Linked DNA regions of Homo sapiens. The protein of the gene in region 2 interacts with the protein of the main gene of each other region in a pairwise test. Each region holds a gene or a part of one and is shown on either strand. Other genes may lie near its edges.

What was found.
Region 1: the proteins of ZSWIM7 (region 2) and SPIDR interact in binary tests that used the Homo sapiens proteins (3 or more experiments, as listed by UniProt).

What each region holds. Positions count from the first base shown.
Region 1 is NC_000008.11:47,253,056-47,268,594, forward strand, and holds the start of SPIDR (DNA repair-scaffolding protein), read left to right. Parts: upstream 1-7,882; 5' UTR 7,883-7,903; coding exon 7,904-7,936; intron 7,937-15,539. UniProt on the Homo sapiens protein: Plays a role in DNA double-strand break (DBS) repair via homologous recombination (HR).
Region 2 is NC_000017.11:15,979,401-15,994,730, forward strand, and holds part of ZSWIM7 (zinc finger SWIM domain-containing protein 7), read right to left. Parts: intron 14,379-15,330; coding exon 14,357-14,378; intron 7,969-14,356; coding exon 7,866-7,968; intron 1,745-7,865; coding exon 1,640-1,744; intron 1-1,639. UniProt on the Homo sapiens protein: Involved in early stages of the homologous recombination repair (HRR) pathway of double-stranded DNA breaks arising during DNA replication or induced by DNA-damaging agents. Required for meiotic progression, hence for fertility.

The DNA.
Region 1 (15,539 bases), on a different chromosome or scaffold from region 2:
CTCCCACCTTAGCCCTCCCAAGTAACTGGGACTACAGGCATGTGCCACTATGTCTGGCTAATTTTTTTTTAAATTTTTTTGTGGGCCGGGTGCAGTGGCTCACGCCTGTAATCCCAACACTTTGGGAGGCCAAGGTGGGCGGATAACGAGGTCAAGAGATTGAGACCATCCCGGCCAACATGGTGAAACCCTGTCTCTACTAAAAATACAAAAAAATTAGCTGGGCGTGGTGGCACGCGCCTGTAGTCCCAGCTACTCGGAAGGCTGAGGCAGGAAAATTGCTTGGACCCAGGCAGTGGATGTTGCAGTGAGCCAAGGTCACGCCACTGCACTCCAGACTGGGGACAGAGTGAGACTCCGTCTCAAAAAAAAAAAAAAATTGTGGACATAGGGTCTCACTATGTTGCCCAGGCTGGTCTCAAACTCCTGGGCTCAAGCAATCCTCCTGCCTCAGTTTCTCAAAGTCCTGGGATTACAGGGTGTTAATTCTTCTTAAATGTTTGGTAGACTTTACCAGTGAAGCCACCTGGTCCTGAATTTTTCTTCGTTGAGACTTCTTGTTAATAGGGTCTCTAAAGTGCATTTGTAAATTCCCAGTAATTTAAGCCTAATTTTGTGTCACTAAAGCAAATGATAATGTGCTGTAAAGTTGTGGTGAGTGATTTTCATTTAAAAGTTCATTTTAGAAATTTAAAAAAAAATTTATTGTACCACTTTGCCTCAATAAAGCAAGTTTGGTACACCCCAGATACGTGTTAGCCAGTAATAACTCCAGGCAAAACAATAAAAACTCTTAAACTCCCAACCAAAACAAAGGCAACCCATTTTAAAAATGGGCAACTGATTTGAATAGATATTTCTCCAAAGAAGATAGAGAAATGGCCAAAAAGCACATGAAAAGATGCTTAACATCATTAATCATTATGGAAATACAAGTCAAAGTCAGTAAGATACCATTTCACAGCCACTAGCATGGTTAAAATATTTTTTAAAGGGGAAAATTATAAGTATTGGCAAGGATGCCCTCTAACATGGCTGTAGGGAATATAAAATGGTGCAGCTTCTGTGGAAAAGAGTTTTGTGGTTCTTCAGAAAGTTAAACCTAAAACTGTAAATATAATCTAGTCATTCCCCTCCTGCATATATACCCCCAAGTGAAAACAGGTGTTCAAACAAAACTTGTCCACAAATGTTCAGCGTAGCATTATTCATAATAGGCAAAACGTGGAAACAACACAAAGGTTCATCAATTGATTAATGGATAAACAAAATAGTAATCCACCCAATGGAATATTATGCAGCCATTAAAAAGGAATGTAAATTAATATAGCCATTAAGGAAAAACAGTATGGACATTGCTAAGAAAACTGAAAAATAAAACTACTATGTGATCCTGCAATCTCACTGCTGAGTATATACCCAAAGGAACTGAAATCTGTGTGTCAAAGAGACATCTGCACTGCCATGTTCATTGCAGCATTACTCATAATAGCCAAGATATGGAATCAACCTGTGTCCATCAACACGTGAATGGATAAGGAAAATGTGGCATATATACACAATGGAATACTATTCAGTTTTAAAAAAAGGAAATCCTGTCATTTGCCACATGTATGAAGCTGGTGGACATTATGTTAAGTGAAATAAGCCAGACACAGAAATACAGATACTGCTGATCTCACATGTGGAATCTAAAAAAGTCAAACTCATAGAAGCAGAGAGTAGAATGATGGTTATCAGGGGTTGGGGTGAGAGATGGGTAGGATAGGCCACATTTCAGTTAGATGGAGAAATAAGTTCAAGAGATCTATCTATTGTACAAGATGGTGACAGTAGTTAATAACAATGTATTGGGTGGGCACACTGACTCATGCCTGTAATTCCAACACTTTAGGAGGCTGAGGCAGCAGGATCGCTTGAAGCCAGGAGTTTGAGACCAGCCTGGGCAGCATGGTGAAACCCTGTCTCTACAAAATTAAAAAAAAAAAAAAAAAAGTCAAGTGTGTTGGCATGCGCCTGTGGTTCCAGCTACTTGGAAGACTAAGGCAGAGGATCTCTTGAGCCCAGGAGGCTGAGGATGCAGTGAGCCGTGACTGCATCATCGCACTCCAGCCTGGGCAACAGAGTGAGACCCTGTCTCAAACAAACAAACAAAATGTATCATATACTTGGAAATTGCTAAGAGTAGATTTTAAGTGTTTTCAACCACAAAAAACCTAAGTATGTGAGGTAATGCATGTTTTAATTGGCTTGATTTAGCCATTCCACAATGTATACATATTTCAAAACATGTTGTACAACATAAATATATACAATTTTTGTCAATTAAAAGATAAGTTTAAAAAGAGAAAGTGGGACTTTTGGCAGTGAGTAGGTAATGAGGGTAAATCCCTCATGAATAGGGTGAATGCCTTTAAAGAGACCCCAAAGGGATAACTAGCCCCTTCCACCATGTGAGTGAGAACACACTAGAAGTGCCATCTATGAGGAATGGGCCCTTACCAGACACTGTATCTGCCAGAGCCTTGATCTTGGACTTCTTAGCCTCCAGAACTTTGAGAAATAAATTTCTATTCTTTTTTTTCTTTTCTTGAGACGGAGTCTCGCACTGTCGCCTGGGCTGGTGTGCAGTTGTGCAATCTCGGCTCACTGCAACCTCCGCCTCCCGGGTTCAAGCGATTCTCTTGACTCAGCCTCCCAAGTAACTAGGATTACAGGGGCCCCACTACCACGCCTGGCTAATGTTTTTGTATTTTTAGTGGGGACAGGGTTTCACTATGTTGGCCAGGCTGGTCTTGAACTCCTGACCTCGTGATCTGCCCACCTTGGCCTCCCAAAGTGCTGGGATTACAGGTGTGAGCGACTGTGCTTGGCCTAAATTTCTATTCTTTTTAAGCTATGCAGTTATGGGTTGTTAGTTGATGGGTTGTTATAGTAACCCAAATTGACTAAGAAAACCAACTAAGGCCTAAGGCCTAACATAGGCCTGGCACATAGTAAACTTCAATATTTGTTTGTTGAATGAATGAATGCACATTCCTTGAATAATCTGCATTTGACTCTATTTTCCACTCCTACTTTTTATATATATATATATAAACCATTTGTATACTTTTGAGAACCTAGATCCATGGTTCTCAAAGTGTGATCAGGAAAAAGAGATAAAGTGAGATTCACCAAAGTTGAAAACCTCTGTGCTTTGGGCTTTACCACTTATTGGGTTTGTGGCTTTTTGCAAGTTATATAACATGTCTGTGGTGCAATTATCTCATATGTAATCATAATTGTACTTCACACAATTGTCATAGAGATTTTCTGAGATAAATGATAATAATAATTGCTAACACTTCCTGGGCACTTACTATGTATCTGCTGTGTTCTAACCCATCAGGTGAGGCACTATTTTCATTTCATATAAAGGGATTAACATTGCCTGCACATATAAATGTCATATTATTATTATTAACATTATTGTAGTCAATGATTAAAGAAAAGGCTGACAAGGCCTTTTCTTCCCACCCTGAGTGCACGGATCTCCTAGTCGGATGTTTTGTGGGAGACCACTGTGCAACAGCCTGTTACTCCGTGCAATTGCATCCAGTCCAGTGCTTCTCACAGGTGAGCATGCATCAGAGTCAGTTGAAGGGCTTGTCAAAACAGATTGCCAGGCCTTGTCCACCAGGTTTCTGATTCAATTGGTCTAGTATGGAGTCCAAGAATTTGCATTTCTGACAATTTCTCAGATGCTGCTGATGCTACCAGCCCCTCACCAAACATTTTTAAAATAATTATTTTATTGAAATATAATTCAAATACCATAAAATCACCCTTTAAAGTGTACCATTCAGTGATTTGTTACAATATTCACAGTTGTACAACCATCATCACTCTAGAACAAAGTACACATTTTTCTTAATTTTTCAATCTGTTTTAAAAATAGGTATACAAAACAACATAAAAAAGTAGAGATGGAGAAGTCCTCCTCCCCTCATCCCAATCACTTGGTTCCTCCCCTCCACCAGGTAACCCCTTTTATTTCCTATACATCTATTTCGATGTAGCATTTCTTCAAGCAGATATAAGCAATATATGGTCTTTTCCTGTTTTCTTGCACTAGAGAGGCAGCACACTATGAATCATATTCTGTCAATTGTTTTTTTCATTTAGTAAAGCTGGAGATCATTATGAAGGTATTACCATGGCACATTTAACAGTCTCCTTACTCTCCAAGTAAACAAATATATCAATTTTTTCTAGTCTTTTGCTATTGCAAACTATGCTGCAAAAAATACCCTTACATACATATCATTTCACATGTGTTATCATTTCATATGTGTATCCTCTAAAATTCAGGTGTTGCCAAATAGGCCATGAAGGCTCCTCCATCACTAATAGGATTAAGGCCCTTATAAGAGGCTTCACGCAGCATTCAGCTAGCTTGCTTTCTTGCCCTTCTGCCTTCTGCCATGTGAAGATGCAGCAGGAAGGCCCACACCAGACACCAAATGCCAGCTCCTTGATCTCAGATTTCTCAGAGTGAGAAAGTAAGTATCTGTTCTTTGTAAACTACCCAGTCTCAGATATTCTGTTATAGCAGCACAAAACAGACTAAGACAATATGTGTGCAGGTGTATGTGTAGGATTAGTTTCCAGAAGTAGGACTGCTAGCTTAAAGAGTAAATACACTTATAATTTTGAAGCATATTTGATAGGAGTTGCATAATTTTGTACTTTTGTTAGCAATACATTAGAGGGCCCTTACCCCAATATGTGTTGTCCAGGACTTAGATTTTAGCCAATATGGTAGGTGTGCAGTTTAAATTTGCATTTCTCTTGTCATGAGTGAGACAGTACATTTTTCATATGTATAAAAGCCATTTGTGTTCCTTTCTCTGTGAACTGCCCTTGTCCTTTGCCCATTTTCTACTGGGTTTCCCCCAAGGAATACTCTTGCTTACTCCTCCAAGAGTAATTTATACTTTAGGGGGCTGTTTCTATATAACATCAATATGAACTATTCTTTAATTTTGCCATTTGTCTTTGCCTACTGTGTTTTTTTTGCCATGCATAAATTAGGGTTTTTATGTAGTTGAATCGATCAATCTTTCCTATTACGACTAGGACATTTTGAGTCATAGTTGGAAAGACTTTCTCCCCTTTCCCCCACTCTAAGATTATAAAGGAATCTGGTCATGTTTTATTCTAATACCTTGACATTTTTTCACGTTTAAATCTTGGATTCATTTATAGCCTAGAGCACTGTCATCTACCAGACTAAAAAAGAATATGGATGAGTAGATTCTAAACATTTCTCCCCATATTAGATCTTTCTTTAAATACAATCTTGCCCCATATATAAGACAGATGGAAGAGAGCTGCCCTGAAGGTGCAGCAGAGACCCTCCTGTGAGTCACACCCTCCCCAGACTCCATGGATCTCCATGGAATCCTTAGGATGGCTGTAAGCAGAGTGAAGACCACAGATATCTGCAGAACAGCAACTAGGCCAAAAAGTTTGATGAGAAAAAAGTTAAAAGAAGGACTTTCTGGTTTGTCTTGATGTTTGCCATTGAGTGTTTGCTGAGGAGGAAATGAGGCAAGACTGGAGAGGACTTAAGAGACCCTTTCTGCAGGGGCTCATCTTTATTATCAACAGTTCCCTTTTGCTGAGTTCATATGTTCAAGTGAAAAATTCCTCATGATTCTACTATGATCTGATTGGTGTAGTGGAGAATGCATCGACCTTGGTATCACATATGAGTTCTAATCCTGAACAGTTACTAGCTGTGCAGCCTCTGGCAAGTCATTTCTGTTTCACAATTAGCAGTTCATCCATAGTAAATAACTGAGTACTTTGTATATGGAAGACGCTGTGCTAACTGATAGAGATACAAAAACGGAGAAGATAGAAATGGTATTACCTTACAGCATGGAGGTGGAACCACATGGTAAACAAATAACTTTCGTAATTATTTAGATTCTAATTGTTATAACATCTTCAACAGAGCATGAGGTCCTGCGGACATGGAAGAGCAGGGAGGTTCAGGCTTGCTAGTTTAGGGAAGCTGGCCACCAGGTTCAGGTTTGACAGGCGCATAGGAAATGGCATGGCAGAGGGAGGCCAGAGCCTTTTAGGCAAAAGGAAGAGCAAATGCTTATTAGACCCCAAGGCTGCAGGAGCTAGGCACGTTTGACCACCGAAAGGGAAGGCCAGTATAGACAGCATAAACCTCACTGTGGTGTCTGTGTTGAGAATGGATTGTATGTGTGTGCTGTGTGAGGGGCAAGAGTGGATTAGGGGACATGGGTTAAGAGCTACTAGCAGTCTGGGCAAAAGATACTAGTGGCCTGGGAAACAGTGGTAGTGGAGAGTGGACACATTAGTAAGACACACAAACGTGTTCACAAAAATTCCTAGGTTTCTGCGTGAGCTGTGGCCAGGTGGATGTCCATGCCACTACTGAGATGGCGAATTCTGAACAGGAGGAAGTTTGGAGAAAAACCCCAACATTTCGGCAGGACAGCACCTCCTGGTGGAGATGACAAGCGGGAGCCTCACCACAGGCCTGGTTGTGGGAGTGAAAGGGGGACTCCGGGCGCGGTCGGGTGCACTTACTGTGCTAAGACAGCAAGGCCCGGCGGAGGTGGCAATGGCAGACCTGGTTTCTCGGCGGAGTCCCAGTGGGAGGCCCGGTGTCCAAAATCCTCAACTAGATTGGGCATGCCGTTTATCTTGTTCCAACTGTTGACAGTAATGGCACTAGCAATAATGTCCTTCCCAGGCAAAGATGGTTTTTCTTCCGTGTTTTCAGCCACTGCAGAGTGGACATCTACTATGAACCAAGTATCTGCGGCTTTAGGTACCAGATTCAAACACAGAATGGTGGCAGAACAGGGACTAGGACGGAGAGAAAACCTGAAGATGGATCAACCAGGAAGCAATGCATTCTCACAGAGGCACAAAAAAATGCCTCTGAAACAGAAGATTCACCTCCACTTCTGCGTCCTTTTGAGGCAACTTTCTGAGCATCCTTTCCTCCTCCCCAGGCCAACGCTTTTCCACCTTGTTAAACTACCCGGTAGCTTTCTCCATGGGAGGCGCCTTCTTCACAGTACTCGGACCCAGTTACACTTGTGGCCTTCCCCGGCTTCTGCTGGGCCGGCTATGGTCGACGCCGCACCGTCTCAGGCCCACTTCTCCTGCGGGAGCGGCGGCCCCAGCGGAGCCCCTGTGCGCCACGGCGAACGTGATAGGAATGCAATCTTCCGCCCCTTCAGACTCTGGCACCCCGTAGCCTTTCCTCAGGCTCCACGAGTTCTCCCGGTGATGTGATGACCGACATGGCGTCTGGGCTCTGAACACAGACTTTACTCCTTCCCCCCGGCCCCGAAACATGGGGAAACCACACCCTCTCTGCTCCAGTCACCAGCAGCCACTCCCATTCCTTAAGTATCCATTATTGCATGTGTAGCCTATTGCATGTGTAGCCTACTTCTGGTTTTCATTTTTATTTAAGGTCAGTTGTTGCCTGACAACACAGACGACAGTAACTTAATTCGAAAGACAATACTTGGAGGCGGCCCCCGCTCCAGGCACCAGCCCAGCAGCTCCCCCGAACTCCCCAGGAGCTCGCGGGCGAGCAACGCCACAGCCCAGAGCGAGCTCCGCGGAACCCCCAGCCCCGGGGAAGGAAGCTCGACTCTCCGCGGGGCACTCCTTCCGGGCTCCGGGCCCGACTAGGCCATCCGGGAGGCCCTGGAGCGCCGGGGCCGGAGAAGCCCTGCCCCCCGCCGAAGCCCCGCCCTGCGCCCGAGCGCCCGCCAATGGCAGGGCGCGGTGCGGCGCGCCGAGGTGGGACGGCGGCGCGCTGAGGAGGCGGTGCGCTCAGGCGGCGCTCCCGGAGATGCCCCGCGGCAGCCGCGCTCGGGGCTCTAAGGTAGGCTCTGGGGCGGGAGTGGGCGCCGCGCCGTTTCCCGCGTTGCGGGGAAGCGGCGGGCCGGCGCGGGGCTGGCCCCGTTGTGCTGGGGTGAGAGAGGGTGGGCGTTGGGGGTGAAGGGCTAGGTGGTGGCGGGTCCCGTCTGCGCGCGTGGAGCAAGCCCGCGCAGTGGGGTACCGCCCCCAGGTCCGGCTCCGGTCCAGGCGTGCGGGCCGGGCCCTCAGCGGCGGTACGGAAAGCGAGGGGTGGGACCGCCGAGGGACGCAGCGGGCGGGAGCATATGTCCGCCTCGGGGGTACTTGGCCTTACTCTTGTCTCTTTTTGATTCTGGTGTAATGTACCAAACCGCAGGGAATCCTGGCGTGGTTTTACCCGTCTCCGCGGATAATCCACTGTCAACTCTGTCTCTCTTCCTGCCGCACTCGGAGGGGACTGTGCGGCTGACTGCCCAATCCGTGGGCACCGCGCTGCCTCGGGTTCCAGAACGGGAGCGGGTGCCTAGGAATCGTTGCTTGAATGGTGTTTGATTGCACCTGTATCCGCGAGTGCATCCTTTTTTGTTCTGCTAATTGTGCTTGTCATGGCATGTGTCCTTTATCGTTTTAAAGTTTCTTCTAACTTCCTTGCTTTCAAATACGTTTGTCTCATAGTAAAACGGTTTTTAAAAAGCAAACACAGGACCTCCTTTCTTGACTCTTGCCTTTACTTGAAAACTTCCTGGAAAAAATAGACCACATATACTGGTTCAACTTCTTTACCACTACCATGCTTTCTCGCTTCTCAAATACCATTGATTATCAGCCCACACTATCAGTTTTGTGACTGGCTTTAGGGAATAAAGAAATTCATTTCAGGCACCTCTTGATTATAAGATACAGTCTGATTTCTGAAGCATTAATGTGTGAAAAAAATCAAGGAAATATATAAATTTGCTAAATCCAGTGTAAGTTGTTTACTTGATCATTGGAGCGTTTGACACATTCACCACCTGCTTTTATTTCTTTTGGAACATCCATGATTGTTTTCCTGTCTTGCAACAGCTCATTTTCTTCTCTTTACTGTGTTCGTGCCATGTTCTAATTTTTGACCTTGTGCTTTTTCACATGTTCCATATTTGCTTTGGACAATGTCATACATTGAAGTTAACTATATAGATGACTTTCAGATCTATATTAGATCTTTCCCTAGAGCTCAAACTTAGTGCATCACATAATCATCATCTCACCCTTAGTCCTCCAGGCCCTAACAGTTTCTCTTGACTTAGAAATCTTAGTATTTTTGAATTGACGTTCACTTCTGGTCTCTTCATCTTGTCATTTTTCAAGACTCTTTTTTTTTACTCAATTTTTTTTAGTAGTCGTACAGTTGTCTATTGTGTAATACGTTGCTGAAAACTGAAGCAGTTCATAACAAATGTTTATTATATCATAGAGTTTCTGAGACTCAGGAATCTGAGAACGGCTCAACTAAGTGGTTGTAGTTCAGGATCTCCCACAAGGCTGCAGTCAAATAAAGGGTCGTTGGAGCTGGAGAATCCAGTTCCAAGCTCACTCACGTGGTTGTTTCTTGACAGCTGCATAGGGCAGCTCACAACAGGGTCCTGGCTTTCCCAAGAGCAAGAGAGAGAGCAACAAGATATCGGTCCCCGTGTCTTTTATAGCCTAAACTCAGAAGTGACATCCCATCTCCTGTCTATTCATTACATGGACCAACCCGGTACAATGTATGAGGAGACTATAGAGGGTCCCCAGGAGGTGGGGATCACAGGGGCCACCTTGGAGGCTGGCTTCCACAGTATTTCCCAGGAATTTATTTTTTGTTTCTGTCTCCCTCGGTCAGTCTCAAAAGTACTTAATGGTTGGAGTGTTGATGTGTAGTGCCGGCTAGCATGCTCCCATTCCATCTTCAGAGGTGACTTTCCCTTAGGCACTACTTTGATTATATTGTTAGTCCTCTATCTAAATCTCATTTTACTTCTTATTGGCTACATCATAATTTACTGCAGAACTTATCCTGTGTTTAGTGCTTTATATGTATTAACTAATTTAATTATTTTAACAGTCCTGTGAGGTAGATACCATTAGTCTCATTTTATGGATGAGGAAACTGAGGCTCAGCAGAGAGGCTAAGTAATTTGCCTAAGGTCACACAGCAGTTAAGGGAAGAAGCTAGGATTTGTATCCAGGTAGTCTGCCCCAGACCTTGCTTTTGTTCAGGCTCTCAGCCTGTTATTCACAGCCTCCATAATATCTGTGTCTTATTCCTTTACAGCTTTGCTCATTATTTATCTTATAGGTAAACTAGACTACTGCGTCACTGTACTTGCTTGCCCCTTGGTGGTAATTGCGTATGTTCTTGGTTTGGAATAATGCCAGTTCTCCCATTTCTGCTGATTGAAACCTTTTTTTTTTGAGACGCAGTCTCGCTCTGTCGCCCAGGCTGGAGTGCAGTGGCGCGATCTCGGTACAGGCGCCAGCCTCCACACCGGGCTAATTTTTTTTAAATTTTTATTAGAGACAGGGTTTCACCGTGTTAGCCAGGATGGTCTCGATCTCCTGACGTCGTGATCCGCCCGCCTCGGCCTCCCAAAGTGCTGGGATTACAGGCGTGAGCCACTGCGCCCGGCCATGAAATCTTAATCATCCATTGAGGCCTACTTCAAATCCCACCTTCTCCCAAATTATCCCAGCTATAAATGAACTTTCTTCTGTATGTTCTTGGTTTGGAATAATGCCAGTTCTCCCATTTCTGCTGATTGGAATCTTAGTCATCCATTGAGGCCCACCCCAAATTTCACCTCCCAAATTATCCCAGCTGTAAATGAACTTTCTTCTGTAGTCTGTGGAATTTTATGTAAATAACTCTTACTATTCCATGTCTTACATTAGGTTTATTTGTGTCTACACCTTTATTCCCTTATATTCTAGACATTTAAGATTAGGGACTATTTCTTCAGCCCATATTCCCCAGAATACCTGTCATATCCCTTGTATGTACTAGATATCTGATGAATTAATGAAAGGAGAACTAGTTTAGAAGATTTGCAAGTATTCCAGGTGTGAAGAAACAGGAGGAAATACCCTAGTCCGAAGACTCGGATATCTGCCTCAGCAGTACAGCTGAATGATTTTGCAGTTTTGGACAAGCCACACAGATATATCACGACTCTTAAGATGAAAGGTGGTGTGGTTATGGACTAAGGTGGTGGAATTAGGAATAGAATAGAAAGGACTGGGTTGACAGACTACAAATGGAAGGTGAGATTTAGGCAACTGCAATTGAAAGAGGAAGAGGAGGAAACCCATGGTGATTCAGAAAGTCGAACCTATGAGAAGTGAGAAAGTTGTTTGCCTCTTAACTGATGTTAGGATATATAGATATATCCTATATATCACATATATAGATATGTGGTATTTAAGTCCCAGGGAGATTAGGGCAGTCAGTTGCTCAAAGGCTGGGGTATCTTAGTTCTTTCCTCACTCCCCTCTCCTCCATGAGTTTCTCCTGCCCTAGCCCCTCACTATCCCTTAACATGCTGTGATTCTTCCCTTTGTGCCTTGTGTTCTCCCTTTCCTTATGAAGTAGCCAAGGACGACCACATATACTCCTGTTCTTGGGCAGCAGCTTGCCTTTTGAGATTTTCTTTTTTTTTTTTTGAGATGGAGTCTTGCTCAGCCACCCAGGCTGGAGTGCAGTGGCCCGATCTCGGCTCACTGCAACCACTGTCTCCTGGGTTCAAGTTCTCTGAATAGGGCAATATACCTAACATTGAGTTGTCGTTTCTTTATAAAATGGGGTTAATACCTATATTGCTGGGTTGATGTGAGGATTAAATTATGAGAATGCATGCGATGATATACCGAGCATATAAACACTCAATAAATGTTGGTGATAATGAAAGCAATTAATAATGAAACACCATGATAATTAAAGAAATCATATGAGGACAAAGATATTGTACATCCTCTACTGCTTTGTCTCTAGATTTCCCTGGAATTGCTGTCTTTCAGCTTCTTGAACAAGAAATAGGAAAAAGGCTCATTTTCAAGTTTTTCAGTGATGGCAGGAAATTCTCATAGTTATCTTGGTAGGAGTACCTCATGGTTCCAGTTTAAGGCCTTGATAGTCTCATTGAATGATTTACTGGTGGCTCTACATCTCAGAATTAGACTACTTAGTATTGACATCTCAGTTGTCTTTTTTTTTTTTTTTTTTTTTGAGACAGTCTTACTCTGTCGCCCAGGCTGGGGTGCAGGGGTGCTATCATGGCTCACTGCAGTCTTGAGCTCCTGGGCTCAAGTGATCCTCCCATTTCGGCCTCCTGAGTAGCTGGGACCACAGGCCATGCCACTGTGCCTGGCTAATATTTAAATTTATTTTGTAGAGATAGAGTCTTGCTGTGTTGCCGAGGCTGGTCTCGAATTCCTGACCTCAAGCCGTTCTTTCTCCTTGGCCTCCCAAAGTGCTGGGGTTACAGCGTGAACCACTGTGCCTGGCCTAGAGGTTGTCTTATTCCTCAAACCAAAGGGAAAGAGAGGAAAGAGAGCTTTTATTGAAAGCTTTCTATATGTCAAGCACTTTGCATAGAGTACCTCATTTAAGGGAAAACATGTTTTCTTTTTAGTCAAAATAATACATGTTCATAGGTAAGGTAAAATAGTACAAAAAAAGTTTGTTGTAAAACTCAGCAGTCCCTTGCACATCTCATTCCATTTATTTTTATTGAGATAACTGTAAATTCACAGACAATTGTGAGTAATATAGAGAATAATTGTTTTATAAACTAAATCTGGAGGCTGGGCCTTGCTAGATCAAAGTGTTGACAGATTTCATGTCTGGTGAGGGCCTGCTTTCTGGTTCACAGACAGCCATATTCTTACCATGTCTTTATATGGTGGAAGAGGTAAAGGAGCTCTCCAAGGTCTCTTTTATAAGGGCATCAATCCCGTAACTTCTAATCACCTGCCAAAGGCCCCACCTCCTAATACCATCAGGTGATCTGCCCGCATCGACATCCCAAAGTGCTGGGATGACAGGCGTGAGCCACCATGCCCGGTCTGAAGTTTTTTTTTTTTTAATACAACATAAAACTCTCATGATTTATCGAAGTTGTTGTGCATATCAGTAGTTTCTTTGTCTTTTTTTTTTTTTTTTTTGAGTTGGAGTCTCACTCTCTTGCCCAGGCTGGAGTGCAATAGCGCGATCTCGGCTCACTGCAACTTTCCGCCTCCCCAGTTCAAACAATTCTCCTGCGTCAGCCTCCCAAGTAGCTGGTACTACAGGCACCTGCTGCCATGCCTGGCTAATCTTTTGTATTTTAGTAGAGACAGGGTTTCACCGTGTTGCCCAGGCTGGTCTTGAACTCCTGAGCTCAGGCAATGCAATCCACCCACCTCGGCCTCTCAAAGTGTTAGGATTACAGGCATGAGCCACTGTGCCTGGCCAATAGTTTCTTTGTTTTAATTGCTGAGTAGTGTTCCATATAATGGATATACCAGAGTTTGGATTAACATTTATTATTGAAGGACCTCTAGGCTGTTTTCAGGTTTTGGTTATTGCAAATAAAACTGCTATAAACATTTGTGTACAGGTTTTTGTGTGAACATAAGTTTTCATTTCTCTGAGATAAATGCCTAAGTATGTAATTGCCAGAACCTATGGTAATTTGATGTTTAACTCTATAAGAAACTGACAAACTTTTCCAAAGTGGTTATATCTGTATAATTTTGCAGTCCCATTGGCAATGTTGTTATTCAGTTTTATAGATAATAAAATCTACCCTTTTAAAGTGGAAAATCCAGTGGTTTCTAGTATATTTACAGAGTTGTACAAATGTTCCTAATTGTAGAATATTTTCATGACCCCAAAAAGAAACCCCATAGCTATTACTAGTCAGTCACTCCCCATTCTCTCTTCCCTCATCCATTGGCAACCACTAAGCTACTTTCGGTGTGTATGGATTTGCCTATTCTGGACATTTCATATAAAGTGTGGTCATTTTGTGACTGGCTTCTTTCATTAAAAATAATGTTTTCCAGGTTTATACATGTTGTTGCATGTATCAGTACTTCATTCCTATTTATTTTGAATAAATTTTTTATTGCATGGACATACTGCATTTGAAAAATCCATTTATTAGTTGATAGACATTTGGATTATTTCCACCTTTGGGCTGTTAAGAATAATGTTGCTTTGAACTTTTTTTTTTAATTGAGATCCGGTCTCATTATATTGCCCAGGCTGGTCTCAAACTCCTGGCTGGGCTCAAGAGATCCTCCCATCTCAGCTTCTCAAGGTGTTGGGATTACATCCGTGAGCCATCGCACCTGGCCTGCGTTGAACATTTGTATATGCATTTTTATGTAGACCTAAGTTTTTCTTTCTCTAGCAGTGGAATTTTTGGGTCACATAATAACTGTATGTTTACATTTTGGATAACTGTTAGAATTTTCCAAAGTGGTTGCACCTTTTACAGTCTCACCAGCAAGGAATGAACATTCTAATTTTGCCACATTCTTGCTAACACTTGCCATTGCCTGTCTTTTACTTTTAGTCATCCTAATGGTTATGAAGTGTTACCTCACTGTGATTTGGTTTGCAGTTCCCTAATGAGATTGAGCATCTTTTCATGTACTTATTGGGCATTTCTGTATCTTCTTGAAGAAATGTTTATTCAGCTTATTTGGCTGCGTTTTCATTGGGTTATTTGCTGTTTTATTGTGGAATCACGAGTTCTTTAAAATTCTGTATACTGTTCCCCTATAAGATGTATGATTGCAGATATTTTCTCTCATTCTTTGGGTTTTCTTTTCATTTTCTTATTGAAGTACAAATGTTTTTAATAATTTTGATGAGGTCCAATTTGTTTTTTCTTTTGTTTCTTGTGCTTTTCGGTGTCATGTCTAATAAATCATTGCCTAAACCAAGGTCACAAAGATTTATTCCTATGTTTTCTTCCAAGAGTTACAGTTTTAGCTCTTACATTTAGGTCTGTGATTCATTTGGAGTTAATTTTTCTACACACTGTGAGGTAGGGGTACAACTTCATTCTTTTCGATGTGGATACCCAGTTGTTTCAACACTGTTTGTTGAAAAAATTGTTCTTTCTCCTTGAATTGTCTTGGCACTTTTTTGTTTTAATTGAAAATCAGTTGACCATAAAAGTAAAGGTTTGTTTCTGGTCTATGAATTCTATTCCACTGATCTCCATGTCTGCCTTTATTCTAGTACCATACTGTTTTAATTACTGTAACTTGGCAGTGTTGAAATTAGAAGTGTGAGTTTCTGACTTGTTTTCTGTTTTGAGATTTTTTTAACTGTTTTGGGTTCATTACATTTCCATATGAATAATAGCAGCTTGTCAATTTCTGCAGAAAGCCATCTGGGATTTTGATTTTGTTGAATATATAGACAAATTGGAGAGTATTATCATCTTAACAATATTATTTCCCATGAGCATGGGTTGTCTTTTCATTTATTTAGATCTTCTTTAATTTCTATCTATGTTTTACAGTTTTCAGTGAAAAAGTCCTGCACTTCTTTGGTTAAATTTATTCCTAAGAGTTTTATTCTTTTTGATGCTATTTTGAATGCAGTTCTACTG
Region 2 (15,330 bases):
CACAGCAACCATCCAATTTCTCAATCTTTTCCCTACCTTTCCCTGCTTTCTATTCCACAAAACCGCCATTGTCATCATGGCCCGCTCTCAATGAGCTGTTGGGTACACCTCCCAGACGGGGTGGTGGCCGGGCAGAGGGGCTCCTCACTTCCCAGTAGGGGTGGCCGGGCAGAGGCGCCCCTCACCTCCCGGACGAGGCGGCTGGCCAGGCGGGGGGCTGACCCCCCCACCTCCCTCCCGGACGGGGCGGCTGGCTGGGCGGAGGACTGACCCCCCCCACCTCCCTCCCGAATGGGGCGGCTGGCCGGGCAGAGGGGCTCCTCACTTCCCAGTAGGGGCGGCTGGGCAGAGGCGCCCCTCACCTCCCGGATGGGGCGGCTGGCCGGGCGGGGGGCTGACCCCCCCACCTCCCTCCCGGACGGGGGGCTGACCCCCCCACCTCCCTCCCGGACGGGGCGGCTGGCCGGGCGGGGGGCTGACCCCCCCACCTCCCTCCCGGACGGGGGGCTGAACCCCCCACCTCCCTCCCGGACGGGGCGGCTGGCCGGGCAGAGGGGCTCCTCACTTCCCAGTAGGGGCAGCCGGGCAGAGGTGCCCCTCATCTCCCGGACGAGGCGGCTGGCCGGGCGGGGGGCTGACCCCCCCACCTCCCTCCCGGACGGGGCGGCTGGCCGGGCAGAGGGGCTCCTCACTTCCCAGTAGGGGCGGCCGGGCAGAGGCGCCCCTCACCTCCCGGACGAGGCGGCTGGTCTAGGCTACTCTCTTAACTACTGTGTTATACTTCTGGGGTTGGGGGGCGGGGAGTAGTGGCAAAACTCTTGCATATATTGGCCTGTACACACCTCTGGGGAGATGATTGCGTTGAATCTGATGTCAGAGAACACAGCTTTAGATCTTGAAGGGGTTTTGGTTCAATCCTGTCTCTTGCAGTTGAGATACACTTAGGGCACATCAGTTACGAATGTGGCCTCTTGGACAATGCTATACCCAACTTGCCAGCCAGGTCCCAAGATGTTTAAGAAGTTAACAGTGTAAAAGAAAGGGAAAGAATGGAGTGGACATCATTATTTTCTTCTTTCGCAAGACTTAGAAAACAGCTGCCTGCTTTCAGGAAGGTAGTGTTTTTTCCTTTGGAATAAGGTGTGTGTGAGTATGTCCTGTTTCTGCTTCATGGTCTGGACTCTGATGAAATTGGCAAAGGCTTAAAGGAATAGGTGAAGGTACTCATGCCCCATGTGAAGGTCAAGTGTGGTGTCAGGCTGTCTCACAGGTAGTGCAAAGATATACCACATGGCTGAAAGTAGGATATGCAAAGTTGTCAACATCGAATTTAGTTCATATTTTTATGGGGCCATCTAATTCCCCAGTGCCCACTTCTGGGATTCCCTTTTTTTCCTTCTCAAAGCTTCACTCATGATCTTTTACATAAAAATTCAGGAAATTGATGCAGTTCTAAAAATGACATTGCATTTTGAGAGGCTAAACCCCTAAGAGGTGACTAACTGAAGACAAAGACAAAAAACTACCATTTGTTTCAACATATAATAAGATTCCCATTTTGTAGAATAGTTAAACCACAAAGTAAGGGCAATTTCTCTCTACATTCAACTACAGTGGGAAGAGTCTTCCCCATCCTCACCAGGATGCTGTCACTCTTCCGTAGCACTGAGAATGCAAATGCAGGACATGAACAGTAATGACAAGAAGCCAAACATGTGTATGTTTTACTGGAACTTCCAAGGACCTACAAAGAAAGGATAGATGGGATCAGACCTCAGATGTGCTGGAAAAACCACCTCTTTCCCTTTTTATTTATGTAGACTCAGAGTTGCTCTGCAAATTGCACCGAGAAGAACTGCAGTAATGTTTTACATAAAAGAGGAAACAACTTCTCTTCCTCCAGTGTACAGACTCTCCCTTCCTCACCTCTCAGTGCTCACCTTTAGGACAGCATATAAAGGAACTGAAGAGTTTCAGATTAGTTCAACCAACCACATAAACCATTCTGTTCCTACGCCTAGTGATTCATGGGGCCCACTCTATGGGCTGACTGTAATAAGAAGGAAGTGGGGGGGGGGAATCTCTCATCTACATTTTATTGTGGGGGTTCTTAACCTTTGGTATTTCACAGCAGGTGTATAAATTTCTAAAGCTTCCTACATACCTAAAGAGAGAGTAAAAACAGGCAAAGGGTCAGTAGCAGGGCAGGAGTAAGATAAGTCTCAGGCCGGGTGTGGTGGCTCAAAGCCTGTAATCCCAGCACTTTGGGAGGTCGAGGTGGGAGGATCACTTGACCCCCCCCAGAGTTCAAGACCAGCATGGGCAACATGGTGAGACCTCGTTTCTATAGAAAAAAAAATTTTTTTAAAGTCAGGTATGGTGGCACATGCCAGTAGTCCCAGCTACTCAGGAGGCTGAGAAGGGAGGACTGCTTGAGCCTGGGAGGTCAAGGCTGCAGTGAGCTGTGACTGCACCACTGCACTGCAGCCTGGGTGACAAAGATCCCATCTCTAAAATAAAGATAGGTCACAGAAGAACAAAAGAAGAAACTGGGAAGAGGCTTTTGAAAAGCATTTGAGAGCAGAGAGAATAAATAAAGCAAAGACCCTTGCGAAAGGAATGACTCAGCTGTTCAGGATGGAGGTCTCAGGAAAAGAGGCAGGCCCAGATCTGCCTACTCATCTAGCAGGATGGAAGGAGGACACTGATACATAGTGGGTTGATAAGAGGCACAGTCTAACAGTCTTGGTGGTGGTCAAGAGGGACAAAAAGGAGAGGTACAGGAGAAACAAGACACATCTGTAGTATGATCGCACAAATTTGCTGGAGAAATCCTTTGTTTAAGTCTCTCTACCACCAAGCAGCCAAAAACTTTTTGTTGAGGTCTTCATTCCTAGAGTTAACTTCCCACCTGGAGGCGTAAGATTATTATTAGTATCTGAGGGAAGCAGAAATGTCCTGAGGGTGATTTTATAATGAACTGCCACTTAGGAATTTGCCACACAGCCTTCAAAGCACTTTTAGGCTCTCAGATGGCAATCTAAATGAAAAAGCAAGGACTTTTAAATTTTTTTTGAATTACAATGTTAGCACTCCTAGGATTCTTTAATCTTTCTTACCCACAGAGAATAAAGCTACAGGTATGGTTTGACTGCAAGAACAAACAGCAGGTTCCACTGCTGTGCTTTTGTCACATTTTCAGTGGTTCATATAATGCAGTTATCCCAGTACAGCTTTTATTAACATTTTTTTTTAATTTTTGTTTTTTGGAGACAGGATGTTGTTCTGTCATCCAGGCTGGAGTACAGTGGCAGATCATAGCTCATTGCAGTCTTGAATCCCTCGGCTAAAGTGATCCTCCCACTTCAGTCTCCTGAGGAGGTAGGAGTACTGGTGTGCGCCACCACCCTATGCTAATTTTAAAATTTTTTTTGTAGAGATGGGGTCTTGCTATGTTGTCCAGGCTGGTCTTTAACTGCTGGGCTTAAGTGATCCTCCCACCTTGGCCTCCCAAAGCACTGGGATTACAGGCATGAGCTACCACACCCAGCCTCAGTATGGTTTTTTGACGCAGTCAGAATTCCTCGGGAGATTTTAGGTTACCAGAAATAGCCAATGATTGGGTAAGAAGATGCCTACTGAACACATTCAAGATTTCAGTTCAGGCCGGGCATAGTGGCTCACGTCTGTAATCCCAGCACTTTGGGAGGCTGAGGCGGGTGGATCATGAGGTCAGGAGTTCAAGACCAGCCTGGTCAATATGGTGAAACCCCATCTCTACTAAAAATACAAAAATTAGCCAGGTGTGGTGGCGGGTGCCTGTAATCCCAGCTACTCAGGAGGCTGAGGCAGGAGAATCACTTGAACCCGGGAGACAGAGGTGGCAGTGGGCCAAGACTGCATCACTGTACTCCAGCCTGGGTGACAGGGCAAGACTCTGTCTCAAAAAAAAAAAAAAAAAAAAAAAAGATTTCCACCCAGTTACAAATTAGGTGTTGAAAAAGCACACCTTGCATATTACCTACTGCAAGGCTCTGATGTGTTATGAACATATCACCGAGACCATTCAGTATCAATGGAGAGATTTCCCCAGCATGTGTGGAAGCTTACACTGAAGGAAGAGCATTAAAGCAGATTGTTTTCTACTTAATCCTAAAGAAAAAACCCACAACATCCAGCAGTGACATGTATAATTCTTTTTTTTGAGACAGAGTTTCATTTTGTTGCCCAGGCTGGAGTGCAATGATGCAATCTTGGCTCACTGCAACCTCCACCTCCTGGGTTCAAGCCATTCTCCTGCCTCAGCCGCCTGATTAGCTGGGATTACAGGCATGTGCCACCATGCCTGGCTAACTTTTGTATTTTTAGTAGAGATGGGGTTTTGCCATGTTGGCCAGGCTGGTCTTGAACTCCTGACCTGAGGTGATCCACCCGCCTCAGCCTCCCAAACTGCTAGGATTCCAAGCATGAACCACCACTCCCGGCCTATAATTCTTGGGTGTCTAAACTATTACCAATGAATACAACTTTAGGTTTCTTCTCCCTTTAGTTATCTCGTCTCTTCTCTCTAGATTTAAACTTAAGCAAGCAGAAGCCTCTGGGATTCTGTACTGACTAGAATAATTCACTGCTTCCTTCTTATTGCGAGTCCCCGTCCATCATAATCCTCCCTGGATCATGCTGAATAAACAGCTGGTGACTTGAGATGGGGAGAAATTCTACAGAGTTTCCTTGCCTGAGCCTTTCAAGGGCTAAGACTCAAAATGTTCAACTGCCTAAAGCAATAAACACCAAAAGAGGTTAAATTTCGAATTTGCTTTTCGCTTATCTAGCAGTGGACAACTAATGAACCCAACAATCAGGCAAAATCTGAGTTAGAAACATTTAGAACTGGAAATTGACCTTAAGGATAACATAATTCAATTCCTTCACCCTTCAGTGAAAAAACAACTTCCTCTTACAGGAATTGCTCCTAGTTTTCCCGCTTATAGTCTGGAATGTTTATCCCCAGAAGGAGAGAGCTTTTTAAAAAAGGAACATGCTGGAAAGAGGATACTCAGACCATGGCTGACAGAACTTGTAGGAACCTCACTTGGAGGTGGTTTCTACTGTGGTTCTACTGTGGTTTCAGTTAGGTCGCAAGGAGAGGTGACCCATCTACATGGTCATCCATTCATGGGTACAGTTTTATTTTATGACCGCTCCAAGCCTCTTAGGACACTCCACAGTGTCTTTGTTATTGTTCCTTGTGTTTGGTGCTTCTCTCTGAAAACAGGATTATACATTCCTGGCCTGTTAAATACAGGCTGGCCATGTGACCTGCTTTAGTAAAATCTGAGTAGCCAAGCGAAAAATGTTAAAAATTGTGTACCATGTTTTCCTTTTTCTCTTTGAGATTCACAGTGTTCCAGATATGGGCTGCTTTGCCCACTGGGATCCCTGCATGAAGCTGTTTTGGAACAGAGCTACAGCTGGCTCCTGGTGGATACACAGCATGAATGAGATCTAAAACTTTGTTTTTGTAAGCCTTTCAGATTTGGGGTCATTGATACCACAGCATAACTTAGCCTCTCCTGACTGAAACATCCTCCTTATTAAGTGAATCAAAAAAGTATAAAAAGTGGCCAGGAGTGCAGGCTCACGCCTGTAATCCCAGCACTTTGGAAAGCAAAGGTGGTGGATCACCTGAGGTCAGGAGTTTGAGACCAGCCTGGACAACATGGTGAAACCCCATCTCTACTAAAAATACAAAAACTAGCCAGGCGTGGTGGTACACACCTGTAATCCCAGCTACTCAGGAGGCTGAGGCAGAAGAATCACTTGAACCCAGGAGGCAGAGGTTGCAGTGAGCTAAGATCATGCCAATGCACTCCAGCCTGGGCAACAGAGCGAGACTCTGCCTTAAAAAAAAAAAAAAAAAATTATAGAAAACAACTCAGGTGTCAGCAACATAACAATGACTTTAGAATTATTTCACATTACATCTGGAGAACAATAATATTAGAGTTGACCTATGGGATGAAGAATGACCTATGAAAAGATAACTAGCTGGGCACTAAGGCAGTATGTGACTCAACTTTTATCATCTCATACAACTCCTGAATTCAGCCAAATTCTTACTATATTACCATACAATGCAACCATTAAGGTTAATTTGAGGGTGTATAAGATTTCTACAGCCTCATTTAATTCAAAGTCCAAGATGACAGCCACAATTCTTGGAAGTTAGTATTTTATAATTAATAAAGCAATGTAATATATACCAGATGTGAACGACAAAAACTAAACCAGTGACTTAAGTTACTGTTGACCAATGGGAGGAACAAAAAGTCAACAGTAATTAAACTATTTCAAACAAAAGTCTACTTGCCAGGTCAAGTATTGTGCCCATAATGGAATCAAGACCAAATATCCCAAACTAAAAGCAATGGGAAAAACTTGAAGGTCCCTCTAGTTTCGGGTATTTTAGCTACCTAAAAACCAAAAATAAAAACACCAGGAAAGAGGACAGACACACCTCCTCAGGTACAAACTGCAAGTTCAGTGACTTTGATTATTCCTAAGTTCTCCATGAGAAAATTCATCTAATAATTGGCAGTCTCTTTTGAGTAGGACAATACCATCCAAGTTTTTTTTTGTGTTTTTGTTTGTTTGTTTGTTTTGAGACAGAGTTCTGCTCGTCACTCAGGCTGGAGTGCAATGGTGCGATCTCCGCTCACTGCAACCTCCTTCTCCTGGGTTCAAGCAATTCTTCTGCCTCAACCTCCCGAGTAGCTGGAATTACAGGCACCTGCCACCACACCCAGCTAATTTTTGTATTTTTAGTAGACACGGGGTTTCACCACGTTGGCCAGGCTGGTCTTGAACTCCTGACCTCAGGTGATCCACCTGCCTCGGCCTCCCAAAGTGCTGGGATTACAGGCGTGAGCCACCACGCCTGGCCATCTTATTTTAGTTACAAAAATTTCTGGAGGATTTTGTTAAGTGAAACTATGCTAAGTGAAATAAGCCAGGTACAGAATGACAAATACCACATGATCTCACTTATATGTGGAATCTAAAAAAAGTTGAACTCATAGGCTGGGTGCAATGGCTCATGCCTGTAATCCTAGCACTTTGGGAGGCTGAAGGGGGAGGACTGCTTGAGGCCAGGAGTTCAAGACCAGCTTGGGCAACATAGCAAGACCCTGTCTTTATTTAAAACAAAAAAAAAAGTTGAACTCATAGAAAAAGAAATAGTGGTTACCAGGGGCCTTGGGGTGGGGGAGGAAGAGGAAGATAAGGAGATATTGGTCAAAGGGTACAAAATTTCAGTTAGGAGAAATAAGTTCAGGGTATCTATGGTACAACATGGTGAATATATTTAATAACAAAGTATTGGCGGGGATGGTGCTCATACCTGTAATCCCAATATTGTGAGAGGCCAAGGTGGGAGGATCGCTTGAACCTAGGAGTTTGAGACCAGCCTGGGCAACATAGTGAGACCCTGTCTCTATAAAAACCAAGAAAAAGACTGAAGTACTGTATATTTGAAGATTGCTAAGATAATGGATTTTAAGTGATCTCACCACAAAAAAAGAAGTATATAAGGTATTAGATATGTTAATTAGCTTGATTTAGTTATTCTACAAGGTATCCATATATCAAAACATCATGTTATATACCATGAATATAGACAGTTTCTGTCAGTTAAAAGTAAATAAAAATTTTAAAAAATTATCAATTCGTTAATTTTACCAAGTTGGGGCAAAAGCCTTTTAACAGTCCAGGAAATATTTAAAGCTAGTCAACAGCTTCTACAGAGATGAAGAACATTTTGTCCTAAGGGGTTTCTGTAGGGATCACCCCCATCTCTAGACTTCTACCTGGTAAACACGCCTTCCACTGGGTGATGAGATTAAGGTGATGGACTGTCGATCAACTAGGTCCAAGGCCTGGGTGGCTGATGAGCCAAAGAGAAACTTCAGCCTGTGAAATAAAAACACTTCAGATTAGAAGGCCTGATTCTCAAAGTCACCTCAGTAACTTGCCCAAAGGATCACTAGACTTAGTATTTTTTAAAAATTCATTTTAATTTTGAAAAAAGGAAAATAATACAGCAAAACCCATGGACCCATTCACTCCCCAGAATTAATGTTAATATCTTGTGTACTTATTTCAGATCTTCTTGTATTATGTATATATGTGTGTGTGTATATATATTTATTTATTATTATTATTATTTTTTGAGATGGAGTTTTTCTTTTGCTGCCCAGGCTGGAGTGCAATGGCGCAATCTTGGCTCACCGTAACCTCTGCCTCCCGAGTTCAAGCGATTCTCCTGCCTCAGCCTCCCAAGTAGCTGGGATTGCAGGCATGTGCCACCACACCCGGCTAATTTTGTATTTTTAGTAGAAACAGGGTTTCTCCATGTTGGTCAGGCTGCTCTCAAACTCCAGACCTCAGGTGATCCACCTGCCTCGGCCTCCCAAAGTGCTGGGATTACAGGTGTGAGCCACTGCGCCTGGCCTGTATTATATTTTTAATAAAGGGAGTAAACTGTTAGTGATAAAGAAGCCCTCTTTATACTTCTCTGTAGTGCATCCTTCTTCCTACCTTCCCCTTATCCCTGAGGCAAGCACATGCATTTGTTGGTTTCCTTCCTGTTAATGTGTTCATATTAAATATTATATATAGAACATATGTATGCACACATACATAACAAACACACGTGCATAGATGTATGCATATACATATATAGTATTGTTTTAAAACATAAAAGGTATATTGTAGGCTTCTTTTTGCTGTTCCTGAAATAGCTCATGAAAAATAAAAGAAAATATAAAATATCGTAGACTTCTTTTGGCAACTTGCATTTTTTTACTCAATGCATTTTTGAAAATGAGGCATGTTGACGGACATTTATTTTTACTTTACCTTTGAATAATATTCCATTATATGTATACACTGAATTTTATTTAAGTACTCTATGTATGGACATTGTTTCCATTTTATACTATTATAAATAATATTCAATTATCCCCATACATGTCCCTTGGCATACATCTCTGAAAATCCCCCTTTAGTTTATGTAACTAAAGCATATGTTCATTTTCAACTTTAATAGATATTGCCAATAGCTCTCCAAAGTGGAAACAGGAGTGGTGGCTCATGCCTGTAATCCCAGCATTTTGGAAGGCTGAGGCAAGAGGATCACTTGAGTCCAGGAGTTCAAGACCAGCCTGAGCAATGTAGTGACACCCCATCTCTAAAGAAAAAAGAAAAAAAAAAACTAAAACACACAAAAAAGTGAAAACAGCACTCCCACCAGCACTGTATAAGACTTCTATTTTCTCAGGCCGGGCGCGGTGGCTCATACCTGTAATCCTAGCACTTTGGGAGGCCGAGGCAGGCAGATCACCAGAGGTCAGGAGATCGAGACCATCCTGGCTAACATGGTGAAACCCCGTCTCTACTAAAAATACAAAAAATTAGCCGGGCGTGGTGGCACACGCCTGTAGTCCCAGCTACTCAGGAGGCTGAGGCAGGAGAATCGCTTGAATCCGGGAGGTGGAGGTTGCGGTGAGCCAAGATCGCGCCACTACACTCTGGCCCAGGTAACAGGGAGACTCCGTCTCAAAAAAAAAATAAATGAAACAAACAAACAGAAAAACCAACTTCTACTTTCTCCATGTCCCCACTAACACCAGTATTATCAGGCTTTTTTATGTTGCCCATCTGAAGATAATAAATGTGTACTTTTTGGATTAGTAATAAGGCTATCCAACTGTTAAATGATATACAGGAAAAAACTTTGATATGTGAGAAAATTCTTATAATATTAGGTGAGAAAGGTTGAAGACAAAATTATATTTTAGGAACTCTCAAGCATGTTAACTTTTTTAAAGGAAACCTACAATTATGTCAAAATTAAAAGTTTAATTTTTTTTTTTTTTGAGATGGAGTCTCACTCTGGTGTCCAGGCTGGAGAGCAGTGGCACAATCTCGGCTCACTGCAACTTCTGCCTCCGGGGTTCAAGAGATTCTCCGGCCCAGCCTCCTGAGTAGCTGGGATTATAGGTGCAGGCCACCATGCCCAGGTAATTTTTGTATTTTTTAGTAGAGATGGGCTTTTGCCATGTTGGTCAGGGTGGTCTTGAACTCCTGACCTGAGGTGATCCCCCCGCCTTGGCCTCTCAAAGTGCTGGGGTTACAGGTGTGAGCCAGCGTGTCTGGCCTTTTTGTTTGTTTGTTTTTTGTTTTTTGAGACAAAGTCTCTCTCTGTCACCCAGGCAGGCTGGATTCCAGTGGTGCAATCATGGCTCACTGCAGCCTGAACCCCCTGGGCTCAAGTGATCCTCCCACCACCTCAGCCTCCCTAGCAGCCGGGACTACAGGTATATACCACCACATCCAGTTAATTTTTTGATTTTGTGGAGACAGGGTCTCCCTGTGCTGCCTAAGCTGGTCTCAAACTCCCAGCCCCAAGCGATCCTCATATTACAGGCGTGATCCACCATGCCTGGCCAAAATTTAATTTTTTGAAAAGGCAATAAACCGGCCAGGCGCGGTGGCTCACACCTGTAATCCCAGCACTTTGGGAGGCCGAGGAAGGTGGCTCACGAGGTCAGCAGATCGAGACCATCCTGGCTAACACGGTGAAACCCCGTCTCTACTAAAAATACAAAAAATTAGCTGGGCACGGTAGCAGGCACCTGTAGTCCCAGCTACTTGGGAGACCGAGGCAGGAGAATGGTGTGAACCCGGGAGGCGGAGCTTGCAGTGAGCCGGGATCGCGCCACTGCACTCTAGCCTGGGTGACAGAGCGAAACTCTGTCTCAAAAAAAAAAAAAAAAAAGCAATAAACCAAAATTTAAGAGTGATTATTACTGGGTGGTATGATTATTGATGCTTTTTATAGGTTTTATTTTCCAATAAAAGTTTTTTATAAGTGTGGGTTATTATTATTATTATTATTATTACTGAGTTGGAGTCTCACTGTGTTGCCCAGGTTGGAGTGCAGTGGCACGACCTCTGCTCACTGCAACCTCCACCTCCCAGATTCAAGTGATTCTCCTGCTTTAGCCTCCCGAGTAGCTGGGATTACAGGCGCATCCCACCTCCCAAGGTGCTGGGATTACAGGCATGAGCTACCACACCCGGCCTAAGTGTGGGTTATTTTTATAAACTAGAAAATAAAATGGCAGGGTTAAACTCAAACTGAAAAGTTAATGTTTTAAAGAACTTATATGACTTAACACAGAGTAAGACAAACCTAGTAAGGCTTCAAAATTAAAATGTTCAACTTCTTACTTCATTTTCCAACAAACCAGCCACATATACAACAAATTATTGGGGGAAATAGAAAAGAGTGCTTTGAATTTTTATATTAAACATATGAAGATTTAGTCTATAAAATAACAAAATACAAAAAACAATGAAATAAAATTTGTCGGGAACCTTACCAATCAATCTCAACAGTTACCTTTAAGAATTTTTTTAAGGCCAGGTGTGGTGGCTCATGCCTGTAATCCCAGCACCTTGGGAGGCCAAGGCAGGCGGAACTCCTGACCTCATCATCCACCTGCCTCGGTGTGTGCCACCTGTAGTCCCAGCTACTCAGGAGGCTGAGGCAGGAGAATCACTGGAACCTGGGAGGCAGAGGCTGCAGTGAGTTGAGATCGCGCCACTGTACTCCAGCCTCAGTGACAGAGTGAGACACTGTCTGAAAAAAAAAAGAATTTTTTTAACCTGCTCTGTCCACTTTAATACCTACTGTGAACATCTCTTGAATGCATTAAAAATTTTTCCATATCACTTTTAATGGTTACAAATAATTCTACTGTAAAGATGAATCATTTTTATTCTCCTCAAACTCCATGAATTGTTAGATTGTTTCTATGTTTTATTGCTACCATAAACAATACTGGATATTCATCACACTGAGAATATCCTCACTGTAAAATCTTTACAAACATCTATAATTACTTCCTGGGTATATGTTCTTTTATGTGGAATTTCTGGGTCAAAGAATATGTATGTTTTAAAGTTCCTATTGCCTGTTACCCTGCAATTTACATTCCTGTTATAAATGACCCCTTTCCCCATATTTGTGTCAACTTCTTTTCTGTGGTCACTAATTTTCTAGATGAAAAGTTATGTTATGTTAATTTGTATTTTTGTGGTCACTAGTAAGATTTGTCTTTTTCCTCCCAAAGGATTCGGCTATTTACATCTTTTATTCTTTGCCCTTTTGTTTTTAAAGTAGTACATTTTTTTCCAGTAATATTTAATTCTTATTAAAAATTTAAGAAATACAGTAAAGGTTAAGGCCGTTCCCTCAATTCTACCTCCTTCCTTGCCCCAAAGAAAAAACACTGGTAGAGCTTGGTATATATTCTTCAGAACTTTTATTTTTTTAGAGACAAGGTCTCACATCACCCAGGCTGGAGTGTAGTGGCACAATCATAGCTCACTGCAGCCTGGAACTTCAGGGCTCAAACAGTCCTCCTGGGACAGGTTTTGTTTTTTTTTGTTTGTTTTGTTTTGTTTTGTTTTTTTTTTGAGACAGAGTCTTGCCTCTGTCACCCAGGCTGGAGTGCAATGGCATGATCTCAGCTCACTGCAACCTCTGTCTCCTGGGTTCAAGCGATTCTCCTGCCTCAGCCCCCCGAATAGCTGGGATTACAGGTGCCTGCCACCATGCCCGGCTAATTTTTGTATTTTTAGTAGAGACGGGGTTTCACCATGTTGGTCAGGCTGGTCTCGAACTCCTGACCTCAGGTGATCCACCCGCCTCAGCCTCCCAAAGCGTTGGGATTACAGGCGTGAGCCACCGCACCTGGCCAGGATTTTTAAATGTAAGTGTGTATCAGTAATTAAGTATTACTTATACCTAGGTAGCTTTTACTTTTTTGGTCTCTGCATTTTTAAAATAACTGACCACTCTATATTATTCTCATTTAAGTAGTTGTATCAACTGCAAATAATGATAATTGTCTTTCCTTGCAGATAGGTACATTTGTAATTTCTTTTTCATGTGTTAGTTGAACAGCTACGCTTTTTTTTTTTTTTTTTGAGATAGAGTTTCGCTTTTATTGCCCAGGCTGGAGTGCAATGGCATGATCTTGGCTCACAGCAACCTCTGCCTCCCAGGTTCAAGCAATTCTCCTGACTCAGCCTCCCGAATAGCTGGGATTACAGGAATGCACCACCATGCTTGGCTAATTTTGTATTTTTAATAGTGACAGGGTTTCTCCATGTTGGTCAGGCTGGTCTTGTATTCCTGACCTCAGGTGATTCGCCCGTCTCGGCCTCCCAAAATGCTGCGATTACAGGCGTGAGCCATTGCGCCCGGCCAACAGCCACAATTTTTAAAACAATGTTAAATAAGAGTGGCAAATATGACAATACTGGATATGGTGTTGGCTATTCAATTGAGACAAATTTTTAAGAATCATGTCAAGAAAATATTATTCCTAGTTTCTAAGAGTATTTTTTATTTTTTATTTTTTTTGAGATGGAATTTTGCTCGTTACTTAGGCTGGAGTGCAATGGCACAATCGCAGCGAGATATGCAACCACAACCTCCCGGGTTCAAGCAATTCTCCTGCCTTAGCCTCCCAAGTAGCTGAGATTACAGGTGTGTGCCACCACATCCCACTACTTTTGTATTTTTAGTAGAGACAGGGTTTCACCATGTTGGTCAGGCTGGTCTTGAACTCCTGACCTCAAGTGATCCACCCACCTCAGTCTCTCAAAGTGCTGGGATTGCAGGTGTGAGCCACGGTGCCTGGCCTTTTATTCTATTTTTAAAATTATTTTCGTAGAGATGGGGGGTCTCCCTATTTTGCTAGAGCTGGTCTCGAACTCCTGGGCTCAAGCAATCCTCCTGCCTTTGCCTCCCAAAGTGCTGAGATTACATGTGTGAGTCACAGTGCCTGGTAGTAAGAATATTTTTATTTTTTATTTTATTTATTTATTTATTTATTTATTTATTTATTTTTGAGACAGAGTCTCACTCTGTCCCCAGGCTGAAGTGCAGTGGCATGATCTTGGCTCACTGCAACCTCCACCTCCCAGGTTCAAGTGATTCTCCTGCCTTAGCCTCCTGAGTAGCTGGGACTACAGGTGCCCACCACCACGTCCAGCTAATTTTTTGTATTTTCAGTAGAGATGGGGTTTCACCATGTTGGCCAGGATGGTCTTGATCTCCTGACTTCATGATCCACTCACCTTGGCCTCCCAAAGTGCTGGGATTATAGGCGTGAGCCACTGCGCCCGGTCAAGAGTATTTTTAAAAATCAAGAGTTGATGTTGAAAGGATTTTAACATTAATGGTTAAAAAAAAATCAAATACAACAGTATATGTACTTACGATAACAGATATTCATCAGGAACTGTAAAATGAGAATGGAAAAAAAAAGTTAATCATATTAAGCAGTGACCATTGACATAAAAATCTTAAAAAACACTGTAACTAAAAACACTTCCGTGTGTGATGGTCAACTGAACCTATGCATCTGGTTTTACTCCTTCCCCAAACCCCACTAAAACCATAATAAAAGGATTTCCTTTTTCTTTTTTTGAGACGGAGTCTTGTCCTGTCACCCAGGCTGGAGTGCAATGGTGCAATCTCAGCTCACTGCAACCTCCGCCTCCCGGGTTTAAACCATTCTCTTGCCTCAGCCTCCCAGGTAGCTGGGACTACAGGCATGCACTACCATGCCCAGCTAATTTTTTTTGGTATGTTTAGTAGAGATGGGGTTTCACCATGCTGGCCATGCTGGTCTTGAACTCCTCACCTCAAGTGATCCACTGGCCTTGGCCTCCCAAAGTGCTGGGATTATAGACATGAGCCACCGTGCCCGGCCAGATTTGTTTTTAAAAGTATGAATTCCAAAGGATGAGAAAGACAGGGAGAAACAACAGCCATGATACATTGGAAGCTGATAGAAGAGTGGAAAATGATTTATAAGACCTAAGAAAACTGAATCCTAGGCCAGCAATGGGGAGAGTCAAGCACCAGCCTGAGTTACACTCCAAAATCCACCTCTCCCCTTCCCCAAACCCTAACGAATTGGTGGCACCAAATAGCTTCATTAGGGGTGAAACAGGGATATGAAAATAAGACTCTTTTCGAGTACGTTTGAGAAGTAGTGGGACCCCAGTTCCCTCCACAGCTTTAGGTGACTGCCTTTCCCTCATTCTGGCAAGAGACTAGGTTTATTTTCTGGAGAGGTTCAAACACAGGCTATTTGGACTAGGGAAAAATACTAGGTACAGTGAAAGTCAGGGTGTCACACTGAAAACAGGATCTCCTGCTCTCTTCCCTAACATGGCTCCCATAAC